2 linked regions of the Homo sapiens genome follow. The protein of the gene in region 1 purifies or fractionates together with the protein of each later gene. This does not show direct contact. Each region holds a gene or a part of one and is shown in the gene's direction. Other genes may lie near its edges. The genes, in order: CENATAC and GINS1.

Region 1 (7,298 bases):
TTGGAGTGCTTCAGGCATCACTAGTGGCACCTCCTATAGGTCCCACGTTACTATTTGAGGTTAATGGTATGACATTACTGAAAAATATGCAGGAACCATGAGTGATCACTTTTACTGTAATATGCAATTTACTGGTGAGACAACTGCTTACAAGATGATCAGCATTACTGTGTTTTAAGCAGATACAACACTTGAGTTCACTGCAATAGGTGGCTACAAAATTGTGACAGTTGTAGTTTGGATTATAATTTTATACAGTTATGTAATATTGCATCTTTACATTTATTTTCATTTCTCTTGACCGCGAATGTCACCATGTACAGTCTGTGTTTCTGTGTGTAAGTTTTGATAAATTTTAACTTTTTTTTTTTGGAGAGGGAGTTTTGCTTTGTCACCCAGGGTGGAGTACAGTGGTGCGATCTCGGCTCACTGCAACCTCTGCCTCCCGGGTTCAAGCGATTCTCCCGTTTCAGCCTGGATTTGTGTATTTTATGGTAGTAAATCATAAAAGACTAGTATCTACATATATTTTATGCATTCATGACATACCTTTTTAATTTTTTCCATATTTCTAGGCTATGTGGTTCATCTGCAAGTTTTTTCAAATTGTTGCAAATCTCCAAAAAAATTTTCAAGTGAACTCGTGCAGTTCAAACTTGTGCTGTGCAAGAGTCAACTGTATTTGCTTATTTTCTCAAAAAGGAATGCCTAAAGGATAATCAAGAAACTAATGAAACTGCCAGATGTGGTGGTGCACACCTGTAGTCCTAGCTACTCAGGAGGCTGAGGTAAGAGGATAGCTTGAGCCCAGGAGTTTGAGGCCATCCTGGGCAGTGTATCAAGACCCCATCTCTAAAAAGAAATACGAATTTTTTTTTAGAGAAGTTAATGAAATTGATCACATGGCCATGCTCAGTGGCTGACACCTGTAATCCCAGCACTTTGGGAGGCCGAGGTGGGAGGATCATTTGAGGTCAGGAGTTCGAGACCAGCTTGGTCAACATGGTGAAACCCCATCCCTACTAAAAATACAAAAAATAGCTGGGCGTGTTGGTTTGTGCCTGTAATCCCAGCTACTCGGGAGGGTGAGGCAGGAAAATCGCTTGAGCCCAGGAGGCAGAGATTGTACTGAGCCAAGATCATGCCATTGCACTGCAGCCTGGGCAACAAGAGCAAAACTCTGTCTCAAAAAAAAAAAAAAAAAAAAAAAAGAAACTGATCACATATCAGTTAGTGTAACCAGTTGGTGTGACCCAGTTTGTGGGTCAGTAAAAATGTTTAGAGTTGATAGGAATAGAAAAAAGATTTTTTTTTTTTTTTTTGGACAGTCTCACTCTGTTGCCCAGGCTGGAGTGCAGTGGCACAATCTCAGCTCACTGCAACCTCCACCTCCCAGGTTCAAGCAGTTCTCCCATCTCAGCTTCCAGAGTAGGTGGAATTACAGGCTTGTGCCACTACGCCTGACTAATTTTTGTATTTTAGTAAAGATGGGGTTTCACCATGTTGGCCAGGCTGGTCTTGAACTCCTGACCTCAAGTGATCCACCTGACTCGGCTTCCCAAAGTGCTAGGATTACAGGCATGAGCCACCACACCCGGCCTAGAAACAAGATTTCTATGTATACTTTTAAAAATAAGCTGTTGGTTTTTTTTTTTTTTTCTGATGGTACATTTGGGAATTATACTGTAACAGGCATAAGAAGTAAGATTTCTCCCATGCGAAATTTTGTATTCAGAATCCAATAGAAATATTTCAGGTTTTTTTTCAAGATGGAGTCTCGCTCTGTTGTCCAGGCTGGAGGGCAGCTGCGTGATCTCGGCTCACTGCAACCTCCGCCTCACAGGTTCAAGCAATTCTCCTGCCTCAGCCTCCTGAGTAGCTGGTATTACAGGCATGCGCCACCATGCCTTGATAATTTTTTTTTTAATGGTGAAAAGATATACATATATTTAGAATTAGCCAACTGGACTCAGTTGAGATGATCCCTATTTTGTTGGCAACATCCAAAGCATTGTAATCAGGAGCCAGTCGAACATGTTCCTTCTCTCCATCAGGCCGAATCAGGGTGTTGACCTTGGCCACATCAGTGTCATAGAGCTTCTCTGGTGCTGTGGCTTAACATTCACAGTGAACACAAGTGCGTGTGTCTTCTGTCTTCTTCATGGAGACTCAGTGGTCAGAGGAAACTTGATGATGCATAGTGGTCAAGCTTGTTTCTCCTGGGGGTGCTCTTAAGATATTTGCACTGCCTCCGGAGTCGCAATGTCTTGGGCCGCCAGAAGGCTAGTGATACGCGGATCTTCTTTTTTTTGTGGCTGTGGACACCTTTCAACACTGCCTTCTTGGCCTTCAGAGCCTTGCTTTGGCTTTAGGAGGGGCAGGAGCTTCCTTCTTAGCTTTTGGTGCCATCTTGTGAAAAGGGGCTGATTTTTGTATTTTTCGTAGAGATAGGGTGTCACCATGTTGGCCAAACTGGTCTCGAACTCCTGACCTCAAATGATCTACCCACCTTGGCTTCCCAAAGTGCTGGGATTACAGGCGTGAGCCACTGCACCCGGCCAATAATTAGAAATATTTCTCTCTCTTTTTTTTTTTTTTTTTTGGGAGACAGAGTCTTGTTCTGTTGCCCAGGCTGGAGTGGCATGATCTTGGCTCACTGCAACCTCCACCTCCTGAGTTCAAGCGATTCTCCTGCCTCAGCCTTCCGAGTAGCTGGAACTACAGGTGCATGCCACCACACCTGGCTAATTTTTGTAATTGTAGTAGAGATGGGGTTTTACCATATTGGTCAGGCTGGTCTCGAACTCCCGACCTCAGGTGATCCGCCTGCCTTGGCCTCCCAAAGTGCTGGGATTATAGGCGTGAGCCACCGAGCCCGGCCCAAATTAGAAATATTTCTAATCAGATATTTCCATGGTTATAGATATTTGGTTGCTTGGTTCATATGCATAGAAACAGTTGTCATAACTGTAAAAAGCAGTACTTAGCAAGTATTTCTAAGTGATTGGAATAGCTTTCCTTTAATGTTACAATACTGCCTATTGATTTGGAAATTAGATCACGCTCTATGATGTTTCGATTTTACTCAAAGGCATCATGAGTACTCTGCTCATTCTTTCATTCTTTATAGTTTTCTAGTTGAGTTAGGAACTATTTTATCAGAAATCATTTTAGCATTATAATAAGGGTAGATGACATACCATAATGATTTTCAGATTTTTTTTTTTTGAGACAGAGTCTTGCTCTGTTGCCCAGGCTGGAGTGCAGTGGCACGATCTCAGCTTACTGCAACCTCCGCCTCCTGGGTTCAAGTGATTCTTCTGCCTCAGCCTCCCGAGTAGCTGGGACTATAGGCATGCGCCACCATGCCCAGCTAATTTTTGTATTTTTAGTAGAGATGGGGTTTCACCATATTGGCCATGCTGGTCTCGAACTCCTGACCTCATGATCCACCCACCTTGTCCTCCCAAAGTGCTGCAATTACAGGTGTGAGCCACTGGTCCCAGCCTGATTTTCAGATTTTTAATAAAAAGGGTATCTGGATTAGCTGGGCATATAGTCCTACCTACTCTGGAGGCTAGCCTATAGTCCTACTTACTCTGGAGGCTAAGGCAGGGGGATCACCTGAGCCTGAGGGATCACTTGAGCCCAGGAGGTTGAACCTGCAGTGAGCTGTGATCCCACCACTACACTCCAGCTGGGCAGCATAGCAAGAATGTCTCTTTAAAAAAAAAAAGGCAATTCAGTTGCAGTGGCTCATGACTGTAATTCCAGCACTTTTGGAGGCTGAGACAGAGGATCATTTGAGCCCAGGAGTTTAAGACCAGCCTGAACAACATAGTGAAACCCCATCTCTAAAAAAAAAAAATTATATTAGCCAAGCATGGTGACATTTGCCTGTAGTGCTAGCTACTGGGGAGGCTGAGGCAGGAGGATTGCTTAAGCTCACAAGGTTGAGGCAGGAGTGAGCTGTGATCACACCACTGCACTCTAGCCTGGGCAACAGAGCAAAATACCCTGTCTCAAAAACAGCAAGAAAAAAAAAGCCAATACCTGGAAACTTTGAACAGGGTGAAAAGAAGAAAACACGGAGGAGTCTGCTAAAGCACAAAACTTCTCTCTGGTCCTCAAATAAATAAAAATTTTTGGCCGGGCACGATGGCTCATGCCTGTAATCCCAGCACTTTGGGAGGCCAAGGCCAGCAGATCACGAGGTCAGGAGATCGAGACCATCCTGGCTAACACGGTGAAACCCCGTCTCTACTAAATATACAAAAAATTACCCAGACGAGGTGGTGGGTGTGTGTAGTCCCAGCTACTTGGGAGGCTGAGGCAGGAGAATGGCGTGAACCCAGGAGGTGGAGCTTGCAGTGAGCCGAGATCATGCCACTGCACTCCAGCCTGGCGACATAGAGTGAGACCCCGTCTCAAAAAAAAAAAAAATTTTTTTTTTTTACAATTCCACATTGTCATTTTCTTTTCCTCTGGTCTCAAACTCCTGGTCTCAGGCAATCCTCCCACCTCAGCCTCCCAAAGTGCTGGGACTACAGACAAGCCACTGTGCCCAGCCAGCTGCCTAGAAATTTCTGGACTTCAACCACACTGTAATTTTTTTTTTTTAATCAGTTTCTTCTATTTCCTTGAACTCAGTTTCCAGGAACTTCTGGTTTGGAAATTAGAGACCTGCCTTCCAGGTTAGTCTACAGAAAGTCTAGTTGTGTTCCACTGTGTCTTCATTGTCCTGCACACTCATGTGATACACTCAGGTGTTGTGGATTATGAGACCCAGAGAGAAACTTCCTGGTGATAATCGCACAAAGTATAGGAAAGAAACCTGGCAGTCTGTACAGTCCATTATTATTATGTGCTTAGTCCATTTGGTTAAATAATTTGAGATGCTTTTTTTTTTTTTTTTTTGAGATGGGGTCTTGCTCTGTCACCCAGACTGGAGTGCAGCGGTACAATCATGGCTCACTGCAGCCTCAAACTCCTGAGGGCTCAAGCAATCCTCCTGCCTTGGCCTTCAGAGTAGGCAGGATTTTTTTTTTTTTTTTTTTTTTTTTTTTTTGAGATGGAATCTTGCTCTGTCGCCAGGCTGGAGTACAGTGGCGTGATCTCAGTTGACTGCAACCTCTGCCTCCCAGGTTCAAGCGATTCTCTTGAGTAGCTGGGACTACAGGCACAGGCCACCACACCCAACCTTTTTTTTTTTTTTTGAGATGGAGTCTTGTTCTGTCACCCAAGCTGGAGTGCAGTGGTACGATCTCGGCTCACTGCAAGCTCCGCCTCCTGGGTTCACGCCATTCTCCTGCCTCAGCCTCCCTGAGTAGCTGGGACTACAGGCGCCCGCCACCATGCCTGGCTAATTTTTTGTATTTTTAGTAGAGACGGGGTTTCACCTTGTTAGCCAGGATGGTCTTGATCTCCTGACCTCGTGATCCGCCTGCCTCGGCCTCCCAAAGTCTGGGATTACAGGCGTAAGCCACCATGCCCGGCCTAATTTTTGTATTTTTAGTAGAGATGGGGTTTCACCGTGTTGGCCAGGATGGTCTCGATCTCTTGACCTCGTGATCCACCCGCCTCGGCCTCCCAAAGTACTGGGATTACAGGCGTGAGCCACTGCGCCTGGCTTAGTCCACCTATTTCTAATGTGACTGGGTCATTCATCAACCTCTGTGATATGGTTTAGCTGTGTCCCCACCCAAATTTTTTTGACTGTAGCTCCCATAATTCCCACGTTGTGGGAGGGACCCAGTGGGAGATAACTGAATCATGGGGGCGTTTTCCCCCATGCTGTTCTCATGGTAATAAGTCTCACATGATCTGATGATTTTATAAGGGGTTTCCCCTTTCACTTGGTTTTCATTCTCTCTGGCCTGCCACCATGAGACATGCCTTTCACCTTCTGCTGTGATTATAAGGCCTCCCCGGCCACATGGAACTGTGTGAGTCTATTAAACCTCTTTTTCTTTGTAAATTACCCAGTCTTGGGTATGTCTTTATCAACAGTGTGAAAATGGACTAAGACACCCTGTCAACATCATCTCTCTGCTCCAGTGCTGCATCTTCAGGAGCCCAGGTTCCAGATAAATGAACTGTAGTGGCAGCCAGTGGCCAGGAGATACCGGCAACCTAAATATAGTTTTCTTTTCGTTTCTTTTTTTTGGAGAGAGTCTCGCTCTGTCACCCAGGCTGGAGTGCAATGACATGATCTTGGCTCACTGCAACCTCCGCCTCCCAGGTTCAAGTGATTCTCCTGCCTCAGCCTGCTAAGTAGGTGGGATTACAGGCACGTGCCACCACGCCCGGCTCATTTTTGTACTTTCAATAGAGATGGGGTTTCAGCATGTTGGTCAGGCTGGTCTCAAACTCCTGACCTCATGATCCGCCCACCTCGGCCTCCCAAAGTGCTGGGATTACAGATGTGAACCACCTAATCTGGCCTTTTTATTTATTTATTTATTTATTTTGAGATGGAGTCTTGCTCTGTTGTCCAAGCTGGAGTGCCATGATACAATGACAGCTCACTACAGCCTCAACCTCCCAGGCTCAAGCAATCCTCCCACCCCAGCCTTCCAAGTATCTAGGGCTATAAGTGTGCACCATCACACCTGGCTATTTCTGTATTTTTTGTAGAGACAGGGTCACTATGTTGCCTGAGCTGGTCTCAAACTCCTGGGCTCAAGCAGTCCTTCCACTTTGGCATCCCAAAGTGTTGAGATTACAGGCATGAGCCACTGTGCCCAGCCTAATTTTTACTTTTGAACCTTGTAAATTGTCAAACATACACACACAAGGCAATTCCAAGGTTTGGTTGATTTGACTGGTAAAGATAGGAGGAGGCACTTTTAGATTTAGATGGTTTCTTACATAGACAGTGAAAAGAAAAGGAAGACCAAAGAGCCAGCTTCTCAGGTCCTTGTTTCATACACCAAAAAGGACAACACTGAAACAAAAAGGACTGGATGACCCCAGTGTGAGTTGTGGGATATTCTGTTGCTGGGGAATCAAATCTAGACTGTAGTAGCTAAGTGGCTTTTTTGTTGTTTTTAAATTTTACTTATTGAAGGGGTGGCCTGCCCCTCCACACCTGTGGGTATTTCTAGTCGGGTGGGATGAGAGACGGAGAAAAGAAATAAGACACAGAGACAAAGTATAAAGAAACAACGGTGGGTCCAGGGGACTGGTGCTCAGCACACCAAGGACCTGCACCGGCACCGGCCTCTGAGTTCCCTCAGTTTTTATTGATTATTATTTTTCATTATTTCAGCAAAAAGGAATGTAGTAGGACAGCAGGG
Region 2 (3,689 bases), on another chromosome or scaffold:
ATTATAGGCGTGATCCACTGCCCCTGGGCCAACTTTGTATTTTTTAGTAGAGACGCGGTTTCTCCATGTTGGTTAGGCTGGTCTTGAACCCCCGACCTCAGGTGATCCGCCTACCTTGGTGTCCTAAAGTGCTGGGATTTCAGGCATGAGCCACCGTACCCAGCCCCTTAAGTTTAACTTTCAACTACTTACTTGTTGGAGTTTGAAAACTAATCAGTGCTACTTTTTAATGATACAAGAAATAATTTCAAATTCTTTCCCAATCATTTATTTTACTCTTTCTCCATCCCTTCTTGTCCCCTCAGCACTTTTTACCTCGATGGAAATGTGAGCAGCTGATCAGACAAGGAGTCCTGGAGCACATCCTGTCATGACCATGCGCCGAGGCACTTCCAGGCTTCACTCAACTCATGGACTCCTCTGTACTCACTCTCTCCACCACTCCCTTCACCTCCCTCTTTGATTTTAGAAGCTATAGACATTGTTTAAGATAACTAAGAATACTTGGCTAAGAAGTATAATTTGCTAACTATTAAGGACTTTCTTTTTTTAATGTTGTACACTATTCTTCCTACTCTTTTTTGGTTTTGGTTTTGTTTTGTAGAGACTGTCTCACTATGTTGCCCAAGCTGGTCTCAAACTCCTGGCCTCAAGCAGTCCTCCCACCTTAGCTTCTCAAAGTGTTGAGATCACAGGCGTGAGCCACTGCACCCGGCCCCTACTCCTTTTTCTAATAAGCTGTATCTGTAATCACAGCATTCCTACAGTTGTTACAGTGTGTTTTTTAAATGAAAGTAAACATGGTTACATTTGAATCTCTTAAATAAGCAGTCACTTGGCTGGACAGGAAGAAGGTAGATCCTGTGTGTCTTGTTTTCTGGTCATGTGTATTGTACAAGCTAGAGAGCTGAATTTCTGAGATACACATTTTCAAATCACATGCAAGTGAAGATGATGGTCTGTAGAAATTTTCAGTATATATAATGTTTAATGACATACTAATTTATCATCTGGCTATTTGGGAAGGAAGGACACACATGGATTTTGCACATTTCCACCATGGTGGCTGGTGTGGCTTGTGGCTATGGGGTGATCACCAGTATCACCACTTTGGAAGGGGACAGTGAAATTGGGGCTAGAGAAGGAACTTTGTACAGTTTTCCCTGAGATTCAGATTGACTGAAAAGTCACATGAAGAGTTGATTGTCTTTTAATGGTATGTTTTAAACAGCTGACATTTTAAATTTTGATGAAATCCAGTTTATTCGTTTGTTCTTTTATGCTTTGGGTGTTGCATCCGAGAAATCTTTTCCCATCCCAAGATCACAATTTTTTTTCCTTTTTACTTCTAGAAGTGTTATAATTTTAAGCTTTATACTTTGGTCTATGACCCGTTTTTTTTTTTGTTTTGTTTTGTTTTTTCGTTTGTTTCTTTGTTTTGAGATGGAGTCTTGTTCTGTCACCCAGGCTGGGGTGCAGTGGCGTGATCTTGGCTCACTGCAATCTCTATCCCCTGGGTTCAAGTGATTCTCTTGTCTCAGCCTCCCAAGTAGCTGGGATTACAGGCACAGGCCGCCACGCCTGGCTAATTTTTGTATTTTTAGTAGAGACAGAGTTTTACCATGTTGGCCAGGCTGGTTTCAAACTCCTGACCTCAAGTGACCCACCTTGGCCTCCCAAAGTTTTGGGATTACAAGTGTGGGCCACCGCGGCCAGCCTATGATCCATTTTGAATGAATTTTTTATATGGTGCAAGGTGTCAATCCACCTTCACTTTTTCTTGGGAATATAGATATCCAGCTGTTTCACTACCATTTTTTGAAAGGACTGCCCTTTGCTCTATCACCTTTGCATTTTTGTTAAAAAGTAGTTGTCAATGTATATGTGGGTTTATTTCAGGACTCTGTTTTGTTCCATTGACCTGTTTTTCTCTCCTGAATGCCAATACCATATTTGTATGTAGTGTATGTAATTTTCTAATAATTCTTGAAACAGATAGTATTAATGTGTCATATTTTTGCTGTTGTTTGTATTTTTTGTAGAGATGGGGTTTCACCGTGTTGGCCAGGCTGTGTTGAACTCCTGAGCTAAAGCAATACACTTGCCTCGTCCTCCCCATGTGCTGGGATTACAGGCGTGAGCCTTGGTGCTGGCCCAGTGTACCACATTTCTTTTTGAGATTTGTTTTGGCTATGTTAAGTCCTTTGCTTTTGATGTGAAATTTGGGAACAGGCAGGGTGTGGTGGCTTATGCCTGTAATCCTAGAACTTTGGGAGGCCTAGATGGGTGGATCACTTGAGCTCAGGAGTTCCAGACCAGCCCGGGCCTATGGCAAAACTCCGTCTCTACAAAAAATAGAAAAAATTAGCCAGGTGTGGTGGTGCATGCCTGTAGTCACAGTTACACGGCAGGCTGAGGTGGGAGGATCACTTGAACCCCAGAGGTCAAGACTGCAGTGAGCTGAGATCACACCACTGTACTCCAGCCTGGGTGACAAAGTGAGACTCTATCTCAAAAAGAAATTAGGATCAATTTGTCAATTTCTACAACAACAACAACAAAAACCCCTGTTGGGCACCTTGATTGAGATTGCATTGAATTTATATAAAACTGTTGGGAGAATTGACATCTTAATAATATTGAGTCTTCTGGCCTATAAACAAGGTCTGTCTTCCTAGGTATTAATGTTTTGTCTTCTATTTCTCTTAATAATCTTTTGTAGTTTTCAGTGTACAGGTCTACCATGTCAGCATTTCATAGTTTTGATGCTAAATGGTATTTTAAAATTTCAAATTCTAACCACTTGTTGCTAGTAAATAGAAATACAATTGATGTTGAACTTGTATCCTTCAGCCTTGCTAAACTGTGAGTTCTCATGGTGTTTTTGTAAATTACATCAACAGTCATGTGTTCTATGAATAAAGAGTTTTACTCCTTCCTTTCTAATCTGAATGCCTTTTATTTCTTTTTCTTGCCTGATGGCATTGGTTAGAACTTCCAGTAGAGTACTAAATATATGTGGTCAAAGACACCCCTATCTTGTTCCTGATCTAAGAAGGAAAACAGTCTTTCACTATTATGATGTTTGTTAGCTCTTAAGTTGTTTGTAGATGCCCTTTATTGGGGTAGGAAGTTCCTTCCTATTCCTAGTGATATGGTTTGGCTGTGTCCCTACCCAAATCTCAACTTGAACTGTAATAATTCCCATGTGTCAAGGGCAGGGCCAGGTGAAATAATTGAATCAAGGGGGTAGTTTTCCCCATACTTTTCTGGTGTTAGTCAATAAGTCTCACGAGATCTGATGGTTTTATAAATGGGAGTTCCCCTGGACATGCTCTTTTGCCTGCCACCATGTAAGACGTGACTTTGGTCCCTATCCATTTGCCTTATGCTGTGATTGTGAGGCCTCCCCAGCCATGTGGAACTGTCAATTAAATCTCTTTCCTTTATAAATTACCCACTCTCCAGTATGTCTTTATTAGCAGCATAAGACGACTAATACACCTAGTTTACTGAGAATTTTTTTAAAAGTCAGAAATGGATGCTGGATTTTGTCATATCTTTTTTCTGCATCTGTTGAGATGGTTTTGTCTTTTAGTTTGTTAGTCTGGTGAATTACAGTGGCTGATTGATCGATTGAGTTTTCAATGTTAAACCTACCCTGGATTCCTGGCATAAACCACACCTGG

The links.
Region 2: the proteins of CENATAC (region 1) and GINS1 purify together in Homo sapiens (affinity purification with mass spectrometry; 2 studies listed by BioGRID and IntAct, with this or other methods). This does not show direct contact.

What each region holds. Positions count from the first base shown.
Region 1 is NC_000011.10:119,001,038-119,008,335, forward strand, and holds part of CENATAC (centrosomal AT-AC splicing factor), read left to right. Parts: intron 1-575; exon of another isoform or gene 576-788; intron 789-1,915; exon of another isoform or gene 1,916-2,556; intron 2,557-7,298. UniProt on the Homo sapiens protein: Component of the minor spliceosome that promotes splicing of a specific, rare minor intron subtype. Negative regulator of centrosome duplication.
Region 2 is NC_000020.11:25,445,618-25,449,306, forward strand, and holds the end of GINS1 (DNA replication complex GINS protein PSF1), read left to right. Parts: intron 1-305; coding exon 306-374; 3' UTR 375-2,946; downstream 2,947-3,689. UniProt on the Homo sapiens protein: Required for correct functioning of the GINS complex, a complex that plays an essential role in the initiation of DNA replication, and progression of DNA replication forks.